Regions from separate parts of the Homo sapiens genome. Here all the other regions are linked to region 3. Evidence: fine-mapped expression QTL. A gene starts in region 3. Each other region holds a variant in brackets. All regions are shown on one strand. Distances are between the middles of the regions.

Region 1 (6,553 bases), 30 kb after region 3:
AGCGCTGGGATTACAGGCGTGAGCCATCATGCCTGGCCTGCATTTTTAAATTTTAAGCTCACATTTGATATCAGAATCCTGAAGCCTAAATTAGGGATTCTTTTCTCCATGGGAACTATGTTTGCTTCTGTCAAGAGCCTAGGACTATTACTAACAAGGGAGCACTTTAACATCCTTTCAGAGTCCTGACTTAACTTGGTAAACTTCAGTTACTCCACCTTGCTGGGTAGTCCAGCCTTGATCTCTAGATTCTGTGTTAATGTGCTTCCTCTCTCTATCTTCTTCTCTCTATATACACATATATATTATATATATTCACATATATTATATATATAATGGCATTATATGTATTATATTTATATATTTTATGCCATTATATACTATATAATGGCATTGTATATATATATATATTTATGTATGTATATGTATTTATGTGTGTGTATATATATATATATATATATATATATATATATATAATGATGGCCATGCATACACACGCAAACACACACACACACACAAGCAATCCTCTCTCCTCATGATTGAGACTACAGGTGTGTGCTACTGTGCTGGGCTCCAGTTTCAATTTTTGAGAAGATCTGCTCAGTTCCAGCTAAACAACATTTTTCCTGGTATGCTGCTGTTTAGTTGGGTCAGATGTGGCCAATGAGAATAGGGTCCAGGCCAGGTGTGGTGGCTCATGCCTGTAATCCCAGCATTTTGGGAGGCTGTGGCAGGTGGATCACCTGAGGTCGGGAGTTGGAGACCGGCCTGGCTAACATGGAGAAACCCCACCTCTACTAAAAATACAAAATTAGCTCGGCATGGTGGCATGTGCCTGTAATCCCAGCTACTTGGGAAGCTATGCCAGGAGAATCGCTTGAACCTGGGAGGCGGAAGTTGCGGTGAGCCGAGATCATGCCATTGCATTCCAGCCTGGGCAATGAGAACAAAACTCCATCTCAAAAAAAAAAAAAAGAAAAAAAAAAGAATGGTGTCCAAATGCACACAGAATGTAATATCCAAATTAATTATCTACAGTTTCCTTAGCAAGGATTTGTAAGAAAAAAATAGAAGGAGGATAACTGGCATCGCAAATGAATGGCTTGGCTTGTTCTCTACAAGTGGTATATAAGTGTATCATTTAGAGTTCTTTCTGTGTAAGGAATAGAAAACTCAACTCAAACTGATTTCGGAAAAGTAATGTATTGGGTTACATACTGATAAGCCTAGAACAGCTGGCTTTAGGAGTAGCTGAGCCAGCCGGGCTCAGTGTAATCCTGGCTTTTGGGAGGCTGAGGTGGGAGAATCGCTGGAGCCTGGAAAGTTGAGGCTGCAGTGAGCCGTGATCATGCCACTGCACTCTAGCCGGGACAACAAAGGGAGACCCTATCTCAAATAACAACAGCAATAACAAACCAAAAAACAAACAAAATGAATGAATGAACCATTTTCTCAACTGATATTGTCAAAAATCTCTCACCCTGTCTTACTTCTGCTTTCTTCTGTGATTTCATTCTCATCCCCATCTATTCTAAGCTTAAATCCTCCTAAGCTTAAATTGAAAAAAAAAAATCAATTTAAATGAAAAATATAGAGACCCCTCCCCTTCTTTTTAGGATTATTCCTGAAAGGATGAAGCAGTATAATGTTCCAGAGCACGAACTCAGGAACCAGACTGGCTCACTTACTATTTTTGTAGCCTTTGATAGGTTAATTTTTGCAAGCCTTGGTTTCTTCATTTGTATCACAATAGTTCTTACTTCAGGGGGTTGTTATGAGGATTAAAGGAGTTGATATTTGCAAAATGCTTTAAACAGTGGCTAGTACCAAAAAAAAAAAAAAAAAAAAAAGGGAGGGGTGACTAAATCATCAGGTTTTGATTAGGTTGTAAGTTTACTCCTGTGTCCTAAGGGGGTCTGGTTAGAGTTGGGACTTCCTATCCAAAGTACATGGATCTGGAGTAGTGGAAGGATGGTTTCTTTTCTTTTTTTTTTTTTTAGACCGAGTTTTGCTCTTGTTGTCCAGGCTGGAGTGCAATGGCGCGATCTCGGCTCACTGCAACCTCTGCCTGCTGGGTTCAAGCGATTTTCCTGCCTCAGCCTCCTGAGCTGCTGGGATTACAGGTGCCTGCCACCACGCCCAGCTAATTTTTGTTATTTTTAGTAGAGACAGGGTTTCGCCATGTTGGCCAGGCTGGTCTCGAACTCCTGACCTCAGGTGATCCACCCGCCTCGGCCTCCTGAAGTGCTGGGATTACAGGTGTGAGCCACTGCACCTGGCTTTTTTTAGACAGAGTCTTGCTCTGTTGCCCAGGCTGGAGTGCAGTGGCGCAATCTCGCCTCACTGCAACCTCTGCCTCCCAGGTTCAAGCGATTCTCCTGCCTTGGCCTCCCAAGTAACTGGGACTACAGGCACACATCACCAAGCCCAGCTAATTTTTGTATTTTTAGTAGAGGCGGGGTTTCACCATGTTGGTCAGGCTGGTCTTGATCTCTTGACCTCGTGATCTGCCTGCCTCGGCCTCCCAAAGTGCTGGGATTACAGGCGTGAGCCACCGCACCCGGCCAAGATGGTTTCTTTTAAAAAATGTGGAGGGTTCATTACTAAAGGCAAGGGGAATGGATGCTGCATGAACATCAGCAACAAATTGTCTAAGGTAGGAAAGTTAGCAAATTGTTGCCTGAGGGCTCCCTTTATTACACAGTAAACACAAATTCATGTACAATGTTTCTAATAATAAAAAGGGACACAGATTAATCTGAGATTTCTGTTTATGCCTTTTGTTGTAAATAGGCACAAACTCTTGGGCGGCCATGGTGGCTCACAGCTTTGATCCCAGCACTTTGGGAGGTCCAGGTGGGCGGATTACCTGAGGTCAGGAGTTGGAGATCAACCTGGCCAACATGGTGAAACCCCATCTCTACTAAAAATACAAAAGTTAGCCAGGTATGGTGACCCACGCCTATAATCCCAGCTACTGGGGAGGCTGAGGCACAAGAATCGCTTGAACTGGGAGGCAGAGATTGCAGTGAGCCAAGATCACGTCACTGCACTCTAGCCTGGGAAACAGAGACACCTCCTCAAAAAACAAAAACAAAACAAAACAAAAAAAGAAACTCATTTTATTTACAAACAATAAATAGCATTATAGAGTAGCACTATAAAAACTATAAATTTGAATAGCACTTTACTGAACAAAGTACAAACATACATAAGTTAATTTCGTCTCCCAAGTAACTGGGACTACAAGCACTCGTCATCACGCACGGCCAAAGGTATTATTAACTTTAGTTAATGGTAAGGAAACCTAGCAAGCAGAAGTATAGAAGGATGTAAATTTTGCAGATGGTAGTAATTAGTGCTACTTTCTCATTTGTGCTCCCACTAAATTTTGTGTTCTATTGGTACTCATCATATGTTAATC[ATTTCT/A]TTTCTTTTCTTTTCTTTTTTTTTGAGACAATGTCTCACTTTGTTGCCCAGGCTGGAGTGCAGTGGTGCCATCTCGGCTCACTGCAACCTCCGCCTCCAGGGTTCAAGCGATTCTCCTGCCTCAGCCTCCCGAGTAGCTGGGATTACAGGCGCCTGCCACCACGCCTAGTTTATTTTTGTATTTTCAGTAGAGACGGGGTTTTGCCATGTTGGCCAGGGTGGCCTCGAACTCCTAACCTCAGGTGATCCACCCGCCTCGGCCTCCCAAAGTGCTGGGGTTACAGGCGTGAGCCACCGCGCCCGGCCGGTAATCATTTCTGTCACTCAACAAATATTTATTGAGCGCTTGCTATGTACCAGGACCTGTTCTTGCACAAAACAGGCAATCCATGCATTGCTTACATTCACATTCTAGTGGGGGTAGTGACGGACCATAAAATCAGCAAGAAAAATGTATGTTATGATAGATGGTTATGAGTGCTTTAGAGTAAAATTAAGTAGGGGAGGCAGGCAGGAAGTGTGTAGTATGTTTCAATTTTATATTAGGCTGGTCATGGTTTGTCATCTATTTCACCTGGCTCACAGTTCTTGCAGGACAGGAACAAATCTCACTTCCATTTGCCTTCATACTTCCAGCACTTAACACAGCACCAGGAACTCAGGGAGGCAATAACTTTATACTGAATCCGTTTTATGCCTTCCTAGAGGCAAGCAGTTGAGAAAGGCGTGTAACTAGATATTGCCTATAAGGTCCACAATTGGAATAACGTAATCATTTATGATTAATTTTATTCATTTCCATTAACTTAAGCTAAGTTCTTTTAGCACGTTTAGATTACAGAACGAAAGCTGTGTTAACTAGTATTACAGGACTTTTCACGTTTTTCCAAACATCTTCTAGCCACCTCTTTGGCCCTACAACTACGCATAAGCTTTTGCTTTTCAAAAAACCTCCACAGCCTTTGCCAATTATTTGTTGATCTCGAGTAGTTGTTATAACAGCACTTGGGGTTTAACACTAAGGTTGCAGATCGCGCCCAGTTATCAGTTCCTCGAACCTCAAGGAATCACAAAGCAAGGTTCCACCCCCCGAAAAACTACGAAAAGTGAGAAAGCCTCTAACACTCCTCGCGCCGTGCCCAGCCGGAACCTTGACCTCAAGATGGCGTCCCGTAGTCGTAAGATTCAGTCGGCTCCAATCAAACATGGTGGGTCATAATTTACAGTTCGGGCCTTTCTAGTAACCGCTAGACGCTGCTTCTCTATGGTTATTCGTCTCGGCTTGGTGAGTCAGAGCCAACAGCGGAGACGATCTATATACGTTCTTCTCTATGGTTCCGCGCTCCCCGCCCCCGGCCGCAGTGCACGCCGGGCAAGAGGAAGACCTCCATCAGCTCGCCGCGCAGCGCGGCTGTATTTGCGGCCTGTGCGAGTAGGCGCTTGGGCACTCAGTCTCCCTGGCGAGCGACGGGCAGAAATCTCGAACCAGTGGAGCGCACTCGTAACCTGGATCCCAGAAGGTCGCGAAGGCAGTACCGTTTCCTCAGCGGCGGGTGAGTTTGTGTCTCTGAACGCGTGTGGAAACCGGGAGACCGGGTGCCTCAGCTGGTGGAGGAGGAAAAGCCGGGGTGGCTGCGAAAGCGCCAGGGTGGGGTAGAGGTAAGGGGGAGCGCGGAGGCGGGGGTGGGGGAGGGGTCGGCACGAGGCTTGGTTTCTTCTCTTCTCTAAGGCCTGGAAAAGCTGTGGGCCCAGCCGTAGCTGGTGGAGGCCAGACCTACGGCTTGAGCTTTCCGTCTTGCATTGTCGCCCACTTTCCCTTTCCCTTCCACGTTCCGCCGCGGAGTGAATCGTCTCTGCCCCCCCTGGGCTCCACGTTAGATACAAAACGATCGATCTGCCCCAGGGGAGCCCTTCCCTGAGCCCCCTTACTTACCGGAGCCCCACAGTAGGTTTTCGGGCCTGGGACACTCTCGCCCCAGCCGTTGCCTTGAAGTTAGCCTCTACCCACCCTTTTTAGCGAGGTGCTGGCCACCAACGGATATCTTTCCCTTCCTCTTTGGCCATCTAGAGCCCGCCACCAAGTGAACTGGGCCCCACCCCCTTGGAATTGAGCTAATACCTACCTTTTTAGCAGTCTCCTGGCTTGCTTAAGATAGTCATGAATTTTGCCATCCTGCCTCTTTTGCGCATTGGAGGGTGCAGTAAACTGTATATCGCCATTCATTCTAGGCGATTACTAAGCTCCACATTAAAATGTTACTTTCTCATTTTTCTTTGGTCGTCAATCCTGCTTTTAAATACGGTTTTCCGGAATAGACGTAGGACTATGAAGATTTTTCGGAGGTTATGTAATATGGATTTGTATTGCCATGGAAATGCCATTTTGATACTGGGCAGAGTGGAGCCAAGAGAAGGGAAGAGATTGGACCTCTGTTGCACCCTACTGCTGTATTAGTGTGAAGTACTCTGTGTATTAGGCCGTGGGCAGTAATGTATAAATAATTTTTGTATAGTCTTTGGAGCTTTTAATTTTTTTAAAGGCTATTTCCAAAAACATTCAGAGGACTTGAAAGGGATTAAGTTGGTCATAAGTTACTCATGATTCAAGTGAATCTTATAGTATTCTAATTCATTTAACTTAAAGCCTTGGTTTTTCTTTTTCTTTTTTCTTTTAAGCTTTGGTTTTTGTTCCTCTGTAAAATGAATTTATAGTAGTATCTATACGTTATTGGGGTTGGGGATTGAGAAAAACGTATGTAAAATCCTTCGTGCAGTATCCAGGTAACACACATAAGCATTTAAATCTATATTGACATAATTTGTTATTTAAGGATTTTCAATGAAATGTAAGAGTCCAACCCTGACTCTGTAATTTTTTTTTTTGTTTTGTGTTGTTGTTTTTTTTAAGACGGAGTCTTGCTGTGTTGCCCAGGCTGGAGTGCGGTGGCGCGATCTTGGCCACTGCAACCTCCGCCTCCCAGGTTCAAGCGATTCGCCTGCCTCAGCCTCCTGAGTAGCTGGGACTACAGGCGCGCGCCACCACGCCCGGCTAATTTTTGTAGTTTTAATAGAGGCGAGGTTTCACTATGTTGGCCAGAATGGTCTCGATTTCCTGACCTCGTGA
Region 2 (6,553 bases), 91 kb before region 3:
GGCTTCCCGAGCAGCTGGGATTATAGGCATCAGCCACTGCACCCAGCCCTGGATAATTCTTGCTGAAGAATGTGTGGAAGCTGCCCTGCGCATTGTAGGGTGGTTAGCAGCATCCCTGGCTTTTACCCACTAGGCGCTAGTAGCAGCCTACCCCTCCTTCTCCCGAGCTGTGACAAACAAAAATGTCTCCAGACATTGCCAGATGTCCCCTGGTGGGCAAAATAATCCTTAAGAAGCACTGATCTACAAACTGTGATGCATACTGGGTTTTATATTATTACTAGATAAAATTGTCTCTAATGGCCAGGTGCGGTAATCCCAGCACTTTGGGAGGCCGAGATGGGCAGATCACAAGGTCAGGAGTTCGAGACCAGCCTGGCCATTATGGTGAAACCACATCTCTACTAAAAATACAAAAATGAGCCAGGCATGGTGGCATGCGCCTGTAGCCCCAGCTATTCGGGAGGCTGAGGCAGAAGAATCGCTTGAACCCAGGAGGCAGAGGTTGCAGTGAGCCGAGATTGTGCCATTGCACTCCAGCCTGGGTGACAGAGCAAGACTCCATCTCAAAAAAAAAAAAAAAAGTCTCTAATTCTCACTGTATACCATTACCACTTTGGTGCCATTTGTCCCAGTCCATGTCACCATATCCTGTTTACTTTCAAATCTGTCTCTTTAGGCTCAATTTCTCTCTGTATTCTCAGACCCGTATTTCCCATTGCCTGCATCTTGAGATTGATTTGTTCAAAATCAGACTTACTCTCCTCTCCCCAAAGTGTTCTTCCTTTATTCTTAGTCTCCCTGCTCATGACTCTACCAGTTATTCACTTAACCTTTCTCAACTCCTCTCTCCACCTCTCCCATGAAATTTGCTGCCTAAATCTAAATCCAGGCTCCGCTATCCCAAGTACCATGTCCATAATGTGTAAGCGAGTTCATCTCACCTGGCTTGCCACTGCAGTTCTTACTTGTCACCCCATGCCGCTGCCTTTCAGGTGCCCTTTCTTAGCAGCTCTAATCATGTCACTCCTCGCACACCCAGAGTCCTCATGATCATGCCCTGTCTGCCTCTGCAGGCTCATCCCCCCCATTTCTTGAACTTCAGGCTCTGGCCATACCAAACAGCCTGCAGGCCCCCCGCCCCCACTGCCTTACGTGGCATTTTCTTTTTTTTTTTTTTGAGACGGAGTCTCGCTCTGTTGCTCAAGGCTGGAGTGCAATGGCGCTATCTCGGCTCACGGCAACCTCCACCTCCCGGGTTCAAGCGATTCTCCTGCCTCAGCCTCCCAAGTAGTGGGGATTGCAGGCGCCCACTACCATGCCTGGCTAATTTTTGTATTTTTAGTAGAGACGGGGTTTCTCCATGTTGGTCAGGCTGGTCTCAAACTCCCAACCTCAGGTGATCCACCCGTCTCGGCCTCCCAAAGTGCTGGGATTACAGGTGTGAGCCACTGCACCCGGCCTAATTTTTGTATTTTTAGTAGAGTTGGGGTTTCGTCATGTTGGTCAGGCTGGTCTCAAACTGCTGACCTCAGGTGATCTGCCCACCTCAGTCTGCCAAAGTGCTGGGATTACAGGCGTGAACCACCACGCCGGGCTTGCCTGACATTTTCATTCTTCAGACTGCACTTATCTCCCTCCCCCACCTCCAGCCCAGGCATGTGGAGCAGTCACTCCCTTCTCTCCCACCACACCTGGAGAGACCTGGGTCTTCATCCTTATCCTGTGCTGCAGGGGTTGGTCTGTGCATCTGTCTCCCATATTAAACAATCGGTGCCTCCAAGCCAGGTAGCACAGCTTATTATCTCTGCCCACTCCCCAGTGCCTCACATGGAGTGGGCGCTTTGTAAATGTGTGTGGAGTAGTAAGTGGAAATAACCCAGAGCAGAAAGAAGCTACCTGGGACTTAAATGTAAAGTAGCCACAGGTTTTGTTTTGCTTTGCTTCAGTTCAGCAAAAATTTACTAAGCACCAACTAGGTCATGGATGCTAGGAATAGAAAAAAGAACAAAGTAGGATGTTTGCCTTACAGAATTCACCTCACGTCCAGTATGAGATGGGAGTATGAACAAACAGTCATGCAGAGTGATGAGTGCAAACATGGACTATAAAGCGGCCATAGAGAATGAACTGTGTTTGTGTTTAGAGAAGACACACTCCCCACCCCTGAACAGGCTTCTTAAAAGTACTAGAAAGGTACTGTCTTTGTCCTAGCCTTTAAACTCTTACTGTATTTGGAAGGCTTCTATTAGTATGTGACTTTTTAAATGATTTTTTTTTTTGAGACGGAGTTTCACCCTTTTGCCCAGGCTGGAGTGCGGTGGTGCAATCTCAGCTCACTGCAACCTCCGCCACCTGGGTTCAAACGATTCTCCTGCCTCAGCCTCCCAAGTAACCGGGATTACAGGCACCAGCCACCACACCCAGTGAACTGTTGTACTTTTAGTAGAGACGGGGTTTCACCACGTTGGCCAGGCTGATCTCAAACTCCTGACCTCAGGTGATCCACCCGCATCGGCCTCCCAAAGTGTTGGGATTACAGGCGTGAGCCACCACATCCGGCCTTTAAAATGATTTTTGCTTGACCTTGCTAACTATATTACTTGAGGTTGGCAGGCTCCCTTACCAGATTGCAGTGCCTGTATGAGTTAGGGGTGAACACATGCTCTCCCTGGCCCAAATTGGCATTCGCCAGTGATTTTATCATCGGCTGCGTCCTGCTGATTGTGCAGCCCCCTATTGAGAATAATGGTGTGAGTGGGACACAGTCCTGCCTCCTGTGGGTGATCTGAAGTCTTTGACTCACCAGTTCGTGTGTTCTTTGCTGTATTCATGCATTGTTACATAATTCAACAAATTAGAATCATTTCATATACAGAATATGCACTCTAAAGAAATTTTGACCTTTTTATAGAGTTGGTAATAATAATAATCTTTATGTCAGTAGAGTTTATTTTTCCTATCAGTCTTTTTCTCTTTTTGAGATGGGGTCTCACTCTATTGCCCAGGCTGGTCTCAAACTCTGGGCTCAAGAGATCCTCCCACTTCAGCCTCCCAAAAGTGCTGGGATTACAGGCATGAGCTACTGCACGCAGCCATTTTCCTACCAGTCTTAACACTGGCCACACGTGCTTCCCTTCCTGTGCGCAGTCCCTTTCAGCTTGTAACTTAACTATTAATAAATACAACTGTATTCTTTAGCTGGGGTATAAGATAACTGATCCATAGGGAAAC[C/G]CACACATGGTGTTCAGGAGCCATTGTTTAGGACAATGAATAAGATAAAAGTTTTGGAGCCGGGCTTGGTGGCCCACGCCTGTAATCCCAGCACTTTGGGAGGACGAGGCAGGTAGATCACTTGAAGCCAGGAGTTCTTGAGCAGCCTGGCCAACATGGTGAAACCCCATCTCTACTAAAAATACAAAAATTAGCTGGGTGTGGTGGCAGGTGCCTGTAGTCCCAGCTACTCGGGAGGCTGAGGCAGGAGAATCGCTTGAACCCGAGAGGCAGAGGTTGCAGTGAGCTGAGATGGCGCCACTGCACTCCAGCCTGGGCAACAGAGCGAGACTCCATCTCAAAAAAAAAAAAAAAATACACACACATTTGGGCTGCAGGGGCAGGGATATTGCTTTCAGAGAAGAGAGGTATAGACAGGCAAAAGAGCAGATCGGGGGTTAGAGAGAAATCATGAACTCACTTTTGAACCTGTTGGGTCTGTGGAGATAGACACGAAGCAGCATAGGAACTTGGTGCTCAGTAGCGATATTAGGGTTGGAGCTGCATCTGCATTGGTAGATGAGGTGGTGTTAAGTCTGAAAAGAAAAGGATCTAGGACAGAACAATGGAAAGCACATACAGGGTGTGTGACCCAGGAGAAATGAGCAAAGGATTTATTTAGCAAGAAGAAAACCAAGAGAAAGATATTACAGAAGCCAAAGGAAGAATGTAGCCTCCTGGTGCCACATGTTGCAGGAATAAGGGCTAAAAAGAGACCACTCACTTTGGCAAGTAGGTAATCAATAGCAAGAGCATTTTAGTAGAAAGGCGAGGAGAGAGGAAGCTCAACTGCAGTGGGTTGAGGAATATCGGGAGATGAAGACATTGAATTCGTAGATGTAGACCATTCTTTCAGAATATGCCCATTTTTTTGGATTAGAAATGGAACACTTACAAATGAAAAACCTGGGCATGTTTTTAAAAGCTGAGATAAGGAGAAGGAGACATTAACATATGGGGGAACAGATAGATGTCTGCAGTTCCTGGGAAGGAATGAAATCAACAGCCAGGTGGGATGGGTCTCCCTTGAAAAGGAGCAGTGATACCTGTTGTCCAAGACAAGGAAGAAGACAATTAGTAAAGGCAGGTATTTGTGGAGCAGAAGGGAGTGAAGTTAGGGGTTTCATGCCTGGCAATTTTTCTTTTCTTTTTTTTTTTTTTTTTTTTGAGATGGTGTCTTGCTCTGTCGCCCAGGCTAGAGTGCAGTTTACAGTGAGCACAATCTCAGCTCACTGTAAACTCCACCTCCCGGGTTCAAGCGATTCTCCTGACTCAGCCTCCTGAGTAGCTGGGATTACAGGTGCACGTTACAACTCCCGGCTAATTTTTGTATTTTTAGTAGAGATGGGGTTTCACCATGTTGGTCAGGCTGGTCTCGAACTCCTGACCTCGTGATCCGCCTGCCTCGGCCTCCCAAAGTGCTGGGATTACAGGCATGAGCCACCGCGCCTGGCCGACCTGGCAACGTTTCTGTGGGGTAGGAAACTATGTGGTCGACTAAGGGTAACAGGAAGGAAGTGGGAAGGATGTTGGGGGAGTGCTGGAGGCAGCCCTTCCCAGGTAAGGCTTGCTGTGGCAAATCTGATGATAACCCAGGGTGGGCCAGCCTTTTGCTGGTGCTGAGCATGAAGCAGCTGCCAAGAAGCAAACAGAAAAGCCCATGCCCACACACAGAGATGTATGGATTTTTTTGTTTTTCTCTTTTAGGAACAGAAATGAATAAAAGTCGCTGGCAGAGTAGAAGACGACATGGGAGAAGAAGCCACCAGCAGAACCCTTGGTTCAGACTCCGTGATTCTGAAGACAGGCAAGTGTGCCGCTCTGGGGAGCCACTTTTGCCCAGTGTGCTTCTGGCATTGTACACATGGCATGTCACACGATCACAGGTGTGGAGATCACCTGGGGGCTCGTCCCAATGCAGGTTCTGATTCTGTAGGTCTGAGGGGTCTTGAGGAGAGCCTGCCTTCCTAACGTGCTCCCAGGGCATGTCGCTTTGGTGGGTCAGCCCACCTCACTGAGTAGTGAGGAGAGAGGACCACTCTCTGTTCTTTCCTAAGTGACCACGACCTCTGGCCAGAGCATTCGCCATAAAGCTAGAGGTAGACGTTATCTGAAACAACTGGAAAACCGTTTCTCCATTTTGTAGACTTTTTATGCAAATACCTTTGTGGAAACCAAATTTTATTAATTCAGCCTAAGTCTCGGACAAGGATATACACTCATGCTTCGCTTAACAAGGAGGAATGCATTCTGAGGAATATGTTGTTAGGCAGTCGTGTCATGCAAACATCATAGCACATACGTAACACAAACCTACATGGTACAGCCAGCCACACACACCTAAGCTATATGGTGTAGCCAATTGCTCCGAGGCTGCAAACCTGTACAGCATGTGACTACTGAATGCTAGAGGCAGTCAGTACACAGTGGTATTTGTGTATCTCAACATAGAAAAGATACAGTAAAAATAGGGTATATAAGATTTTTTTTTAAATGGTATACCTATGTATGACACTCCTGTGAACAGAGCTTGCGGGACTGGAAGTCAGTGAGTGAGTGATGAGTGAACACAAAGGCTTAGGACATTACTGTATGCTAGTGTAGACTTTAAAACCCTGTACACCAGGCTACATTACATTTATTTATTTATTTAAGAGATGAGGTCTCACTCTGTTGCTCAGGCTGGTCTCAAACTCCTGAGCTCAAGTGATCCTTCTGCCTCAGCCTCCCAAAGTGCTGGGATTACAGACTTGAACCACCACCCAGGCCAAGGCTACATTAAATGTATTTTTAAAATAAAGTTGGCTGGGCCGGGTGTGGTGGCTGACGCCTGTAATCCCAGCACTTTGGGAGACCAAGGCAGCCGGATCACTTGAGGTCAGGAGTTTGAGACCAGTCTGGCCAACACGGCGAAACTCCGTCTCTACTAAAAATATAAAAATTATCTGGGTGTGGTGGCACACACCTTTACTACATCCTTCAGCCTATAATTCCCTCAGAAGCTACTTGTGGATTTACAAATCAAGTGTTTTAGCCGCAGCTCTATCCCAGTGTTACTGAACTAATCACCTCTGTCCCCCAAACCCCAGTTTCTCTGTCTGTAAGATTGTGTAGTCAAGTAAAATTTAAACTCTTTGTGCTACTGAATCCAATAAAGAATGAAATTCACCTAGCCTTGTAACTGCTGTTGTGCTGACAAATGAGCCCAGCTGGTAAAATTCTTATTGGCAGAGATTTCTATTTTTCCTTTTAATCTGGAAAATTCCACAAGACCTCACAA
Region 3 (6,553 bases):
TACACTGACCATTTATTATGCGACAGGCTCTACAAACACTGTCTCATTTCAACCTCACAACTCGATGAAGTAGGCTGTCCCCCATTTTATAGATGAAAAAGCTAAGGCTCAGAAAAGTAAAGTAATTCGGCCAGAGGTCATGCAGCTGGTAACTAAATCTGACTCCATGCAACTAAAGCCTCCAGAGGTCTTGCCTTTTAATGATTAAAATGTGATCTCTTCTTGGACATCGTTTTTTGAGAGCTGGCTTCCAACAACAGATCTGCTCCACTACACATGAATCCCACTATACCCGTGTGCTTACCTGAATTTCTTCATTTTCGTCTACTAGGAGGAAACTCACAACCTTCTCAGTCATCTTCTTCCTCTTGGTCTCCTCATCCATCTCTTCTGCCTCCAGTGACTCCTGGAGATTACTGACATTGTACACAGTAACAGGGTGTCTCCTTTTGTTACCCCCAGAATGAGTCCTCTTCTGGCACTCCAGGCACAAGTTAATTTTGCAGGTCTGGCACCTCACTATTGCCCTCTGCCTAACACCTGGTAAATGCCCACTGAGACCCTTGCAGAGGTCACAGTAAGGGACATGGCCAGGTTTGAGTCTTATCCGCTCATGGTTTCTCAGGCGCTCCTGCCGATGGAGCTCCTCCTCGCAGCGGAGACACTGCAGACTGCAGCACTCATCACACTCAAAGATAGCTTCATCAGTCCCGCTGCAAGCGTAACTTTCCTGGCACATCAGCCCCGGATTCAGGCCCTTCTCTGCTGGGGAAGTCTGGGCACTCATACTCACGCTGGTAAGGAAACACACCCACCATATAATAGTCACTGAGCTTGCCCCGGGGGTGAAGACGAAGATTTGAGTCTGAAGACTGCACGAAACTTCCACAGGGTTCTGAACACTTTAAAAAAGAACACCTTTCATGTCCTGTTATAGTTCTTCACAAACAAATGTTCAAATTTTTAATTTGCTGCCTCTAAGACTCTTGTATTAGCAGCAACGTTGATTTGGTTTGATGGTTTCATCCTCCATAAAGTGCAAGCAAAGATGTGGTCAAAATTGACTTGGAAGGGTCTTTTATGGCTATCTGAGAGAGGTCTGATGGGTTCACGGTGGTGGGTTCATCGGTTGGACATCAGCTACAAAGTTTTGGTAATGAAAGAAAGTGGTCAGGAGCTTTTCAATATAATTCGACCTGAAGTCAGTATTTCAGGGGATACCTAGAATAGAGGAAGGAAAAGGATTTCACTCATCTAAAAAACAGAAGTGCACCTTTAAAAAAATTTTTTTTGACTAAATTAAATATTAGCCCAGAACTGCTGAGAGAAATCTCATTCCTCTTTTTTTTCTTTTTTTTTTTTTTGAGACAGAGTTTTGCTCTTGCTGCCCAAGCTGGAGTGCAATGGGACAGTCTCGGCTCACTGCAACCTCCGCCTCCCGGGTTCAAGCGATTCTCCTGCCTCAGCCTCCCAAGGAGCTGGGATTACACGCGCTAGCCACAATGCCCAGCTAATTTTTGTATTTTTAGTAGAGACGGGGTTTCACCATGTTGGCCAGGCTGGTCTTGAACTCTTGACCCCAGGTGATCTGCCCGCCTTGGCCTCCCAAAGTGCTGGGATTACAGGCGTGAGTCACCGCACCTGGCCAGAAATCTCATTTTCTATCTTAACACTTACACTGGCTTGTTGTATAGCCAGGCGCAGTGGCTCACACCTGTAATTCCATCACTTTGGGAGGCCGAGGTGGGCAGATCACTTGAGGTCAGGAGTTCGAGACTACCCTGTCCAACATGGTGAAATCCCATCTCTACTAAAAATACAAATATTAGCTGGGCATGGTGGCAGGCACGTGTAATCCAAGCTACTAGGGAGGCTGAGGCAGGAGAATCACTTGAACCCAGGAGGCGGAGGTTGCAGTGAGCCAAGATCTTGCCACTGCACTCCAGCCTGGAAGACAGGGCAAGACTCCCTCAAAAAAAAAAAAAAAAAAAAAAATCTCAAAATTGTGGCTAAAGCTCCTCCTCTTGACAACAAACGCCACCTCTAGGCCCAAGGCATTTAAGAGACTTTGCTGCTCTATTTCCCAGACTGGAATTTTCTGTTCATTCAGATATTAAATTCAGAATCTAAATCACTAAGTGAGTAGTCCTTGGAAGGACAGCCCTCTGCACCCCCACATGCATCCCACAATTGGGAGGAGTGGAGAGGCCTTCACAAAGCTAATGAAAATGTAATAATAAACTTTAGATCTATCAAATACCTGGGCCGACCTGGTTAGCCTTGTAACTGGATTGTTTCAACTCTAGCTAGATGTATATTAAAGACTCAAAACTTAGAAACAATAGTAACAATTTCATCTTTAAAAACAATTTTTTTACACTGTAATTCTTCTGTCCCTTCTTTCACTAACTGAAAAAAAAAAAAAAAAGGAGCAACAGGAGACAATTCCTCTACTTTGACCCATGGCAAAGCCAGGCCTGCAGTGAATCAAAACAAATAATTTTTCTCTTTGTCACTTAAAAACTAACTTAAAAATAACTTCAAAATACGAAAAAAGATAACTGGGGCAAGAAAGGGGCTTTTGTCACTTTGACAATTATATTCCTAATTCCCCCTAGCCTTGACCCGCATTCCAAGGCCCCGACAAGGTGTAAAGCCCTGCCTTTCTGATAGTCACTCCTCCCCTACAGTAATCAATCTATCAACCTTATTTTCAGATAAACAAGGAAGGCGAAGGGAGTGACTAGGGGATCTTATTTACTACAATCTAACCTCAGACATGCCCAGCCAGCTCCCAAAACAGAAACAAAAATCAAACTTGTCACAATTGAGAAAAATATAAAATCAACCTTCAAAAGTACACCTCACGCCCGGCCATGTCAACCAAACATTTTGCCCACTCGGGCCCCCACCTCGACACCTCTCCCCAGCCGGGGGTTCCTCACCCTTCCTTCCACCCGGACACCACCGCCACAACCCGAGGGGCAGGAGCGGAGCCTAAGAACAAAGAAGGTCCCCCAAAATCCCCCCCACGCCGGCAAAACCCGGAGCCGAATCCATTGTTTATACCACCCCACCCCCACCCCCGCCGCACCCGCCCCCCCTTCCTCCCGAGGGCAGCCTGAGCCCCAGGACGATCACTCGCCCCGCGCTGGGCCGTGCCCTCCCCGCCCTGCCCTGCCCGCCGCGGCCCGGGGATCCCACCACTGAGAAGCTCGGCCGCAGCAAGGCGGCGTCGGGGGGCCGCAGGGCGCCAGTGGGGGCAGAGGCTATTCCTCAGGACACCGGCAGATCCATCCTCATCTCCATCTCCGCCACCCTCCTCCTTCGTTGCCTCCCGGGCTTCCTCCTCTCCTGTTGTCAGTTGGGATCAGCTGATCGGAGTGAACTTCTCCCAGCTCGGACTAACAGGAAGGCGTGAGCGGTGCAGCCCAGAAAGGGAGGAGCGAGAGAGGGAGGATCCCGGCGCCAGCAAGGGCGTAGTGCGCACTGCCTCCTGGGAGATGTAGCTCCTCGAGGCGCGCTCTCGCCCCTCATCCCGGAAAGGAAGACTCTGAATGACTACAACTCCCAGTACTGAAGAGGCTGCTCTTGCGAGGAGGCGGTGGGGACAGGCTACGGAGGATTTCGGGACTTGGAGTTTTTGCATTGAGTGTGGTGTCCGCAGGTTTCAGCACGTTCTTTTGGGTTGTAACTGGGGAAGGCATGGTGCTACATTAGAGAACTGATGTAATAATGTCTAGTATAAGTGGGAAATGGTGAGTCAATTAATTTGGATTCAAGTAACCTCTTGCACACCATTCCCTCAGAAACGTGTGAGCACAGACAGTCTCCACCTTCCCAATTTCACTTCGCAAAAACTAAGGAAAAGACCAGAAAAAGTGATAAGAGGATATAGGTACTCTTGGGAAGTTTTTGTTGTTTTTCCCCCCTTGGCAAAGGACAAAATTACAACGAATTTAGTTTTAAGATCTCAGTTGGCTTTATTGCGACTCTAGGATCAGGCAACACTTCATTCCAGAAAGTGGAGTGAATGTTCTGATGAGCTGAGCAGGAGAGGTTGGCTTTGTAGACAGAGAAAAGCTTGAGGAAGCAAAAGCAAAGAACAAAGAGCATATTGGTTTCTTTCTTTCTCTTTCTTGTCATTCTTTTCTTTCCTCTTTCTTCTCTTTTTTTCAGTCTTCTCATGGGACCTTGACATATTGGTCACTTCTAAGCTACTTTCCTTGGAAGGTGAGGACAGAGAGACAGAACAATAGAAAAATAACTGATTAGTTGACATCAGTTACTTCAGGCTACTTCTTTTGTGTAAGGATTACAACAGAGGGAGCTTCATTATCATGCAACATTAAAACAAGCCTGTTTGGGAAACTGGCTGTCCTTATCCCTCTTTCCTGATTTCTCTGAAGGTCAGATAACAACTTAGCTTGGGTTTGGTAACAACTTAGTTTGGATTTGGTGAGGTGAAACTTTAGCATGGGTGACTCCATTTTTATTTTAGCCAGGTCTATTGGGGCCTGGTGCAGGAGTTTAGTCCAAAACAAAGGCCTCCTATCATTTTTACTTAACACCCTTCAAGGGTATTCTCCAAGCCAACCATGAATTTTTTTTCCTACCTATTATTTTTCTGATCTTTCCTTCTATAGTTTCAGAACTTCTCAGGCTGGGCGCGGTAGCGCATGCCTGTAATCCCAGCACTTTGGGAGGTCGAGGTGGACGGATCACCTGAGGTCGGGCGTTCGAGACCAGCCTGACCAACATGGAGAAACTCCATCTCTACTAACAGATACAAAATTAGCCGGGCGTGATGATGCATGCCTGTAATCCCAGCTACTCGGTAGGCTGAGGCAGGAGAATTGCTTGAACCTGGGAGGCAGAGGTTGCAGTAAGCCGAGATCACGCCATGGCACTCCAGCCTGGGCAACAAGAGGGAAACTCTGTCTCAAAAAAAAAAAAAAAAAAAAGCTATTATACTTTCAGAACTTCTCAATTTGAAATTATCTTTGAGGGCCAGGCACGGTGGCTCATGCCTGTAATCCCAGCACTTTGGGAGGCCAAGGAGAGCGGATCATGAGCTCAGGAGTTCAAGACCAGCATGGCCAACATAGTGAAACCTCATCTCTACTAAAAATACAAAACATTAGCTGGGTGTGGTGGTGTGCACCTGTAATCCCAGCTACTCGGGAGGCTGAGGCAGGAGAATCACATGAACCCGGGAGGCAGAGGTTGCAGTGAGCCAAGATCGCACCATTGCACTCCAGCCTGGGCAACAGTGCAAGACTCTGTCTCAAACAAGAAAAAAAAAAAAAGAAAGAAATTTTCTTTGCGTTAGATGGGCTAAATTTTCAGATAAGTTTTCAGGCTACAGTGCAGGCTAATGGTTAACATTTATCAGGCTTTTTTTTCTTTTTTTATGGCCTTATATTTGTTTAGTGCTTTCACTTTTTGTTTGTTTCTTGAAACAACATTGAAAGAAAGCCTGAGTCTGTGTTGCCAAAGATTGACTGCTTGCTCTAGAAAAGCTCCTGAAGGCCTGGTGTGGTTGTTCCTGTGTGTAATCTCAACACTTTGGGAGGCCAAGGCACGCAGAGCACTTGAGGTCCTGGCCAACATGGTGAAACCATGACTATACTAAAAATACAAAAAATTAGCTGGGAATGGTGGCATGTGCCTGTAATCCCAGCTACTCTGGAGGCTGAGGCAGGAAAATCACTTGAACCCCAGAGGCAGAGGTTCCAGTGAGCCAAGATTGTGCCACTGCACTCCAGCCTGGGCAATGGAGCAAAACTCCATCTCAAAAAAAAAAAAAAAAAAAAAAGAGGCTGGGCGCAGTGGCTCACGCCTGTAATCCTAACACTTTGGGAGGCTGAGGCGGGTGGATTGCCTGAGCTCAGGAGTTCAAGACCAGCCTGGGCAACATGGTAAAAACCCATCTCTACTAAAACACACACACACACAAAAAATTAGCCAGGCATGGCGGCGTGCACCTGTAATCCCAGCAACTAGAGGGACTGAGACAAGAGAATCACTTGAACCCGGGGGTTGGAGGTTGCAGTGAGCCGAGATCGTGCCATTGCACTCCAGCCTGGGTGACAGAGTGAGAGACTCCATCTCAAAAAAAAAAAAAAGAAAGAAAGAAAGAAAACGTCCTGACTATACAGGTGGTTGGGTAAGTCACTCAACCTCTCCACAAAATAGAAATTGTAATTAATGAAGTCCCTGCCAATTCCAACATACTATGATTCTATCTTGATAATTGTTAACCCAGAAGAGAAAACTAAGATTAAGTGACTTGCCAGGGTTACACAACAAATTATTGACAAATCTGGGACAAGACTGTATCTGCTGACTTGAAGTCCAATACTTTTTACCTTATGATTCCAGGGACATAAGTAAACCACTAGCAAAATCAAATCTACATAATAATGACCCATATATGAGGATTAAATTGCTGAAAATTATATTTTCAATATTGGGCAGAGAGCCAATGGTTGGATTATGAAACATGGCTGAGAAATTGTTTTCTAAAAACAACTTCTAGGGCCGGGCGCAG

Which allele goes with the higher level. Positions count from the first base shown, and alleles are read on the strand shown. Sizes are in standard deviations (SD) of each study's normalised expression. Not every link is listed here.
With allele A in place of ATTTCT in region 1, the expression in skeletal muscle of the gene that starts at base 3,385 in region 3 is lower (large effect, 1.1 SD a copy in FUSION).

The links. PIP is the estimated chance that this variant, and not a neighbour inherited with it, causes the effect.
Region 1: its variant is the best candidate, but not a certain one, in a credible set for the expression of ZFYVE1 in skeletal muscle (FUSION, PIP 0.59).
Region 2: its variant is the best candidate, but not a certain one, in a credible set for the expression of ZFYVE1 in nasal epithelium (TOPMed, PIP 0.59).

What each region holds. Positions count from the first base shown.
Region 1 is chr14:73,053,724-73,060,276 of GRCh38, forward strand. It overlaps RBM25 (RNA binding motif protein 25), which reads left to right and starts at 4,811. Exons shown (of 19, transcript NM_021239.3): 1 at 4,811-4,982. RBM25-AS1 (RBM25 antisense RNA 1) reads right to left here and starts at 5,730. Exons shown (of 2, transcript NR_184256.1): 1 at 5,553-5,730; 2 at 3,107-5,034. RefSeq lists enhancers at 4,088-5,052, 4,124-5,323, 4,376-4,915. The variant ATTTCT/A (reference allele first, on the strand shown) is at 3,425.
Region 2 is chr14:72,932,991-72,939,543 of GRCh38, forward strand. DCAF4 (DDB1 and CUL4 associated factor 4) reads left to right here. Exons shown (of 14, transcript NM_015604.4): 2 at 4,981-5,080. The coding sequence starts at 4,989. Among named protein-coding and RNA genes, the nearest start is that of DCAF4, 9.8 kb to the left of the region's middle. RefSeq lists an enhancer at 6,433-6,553. The variant C/G (reference allele first, on the strand shown) is at 3,235.
Region 3 is chr14:73,023,722-73,030,274 of GRCh38, forward strand. It overlaps ZFYVE1 (zinc finger FYVE-type containing 1), which reads right to left and starts at 3,385. Exons shown (of 12, transcript NM_021260.4): 1 at 3,205-3,385; 2 at 305-1,221. The coding sequence starts at 787. RefSeq lists a silencer at 3,088-3,297 and an enhancer at 3,528-3,727.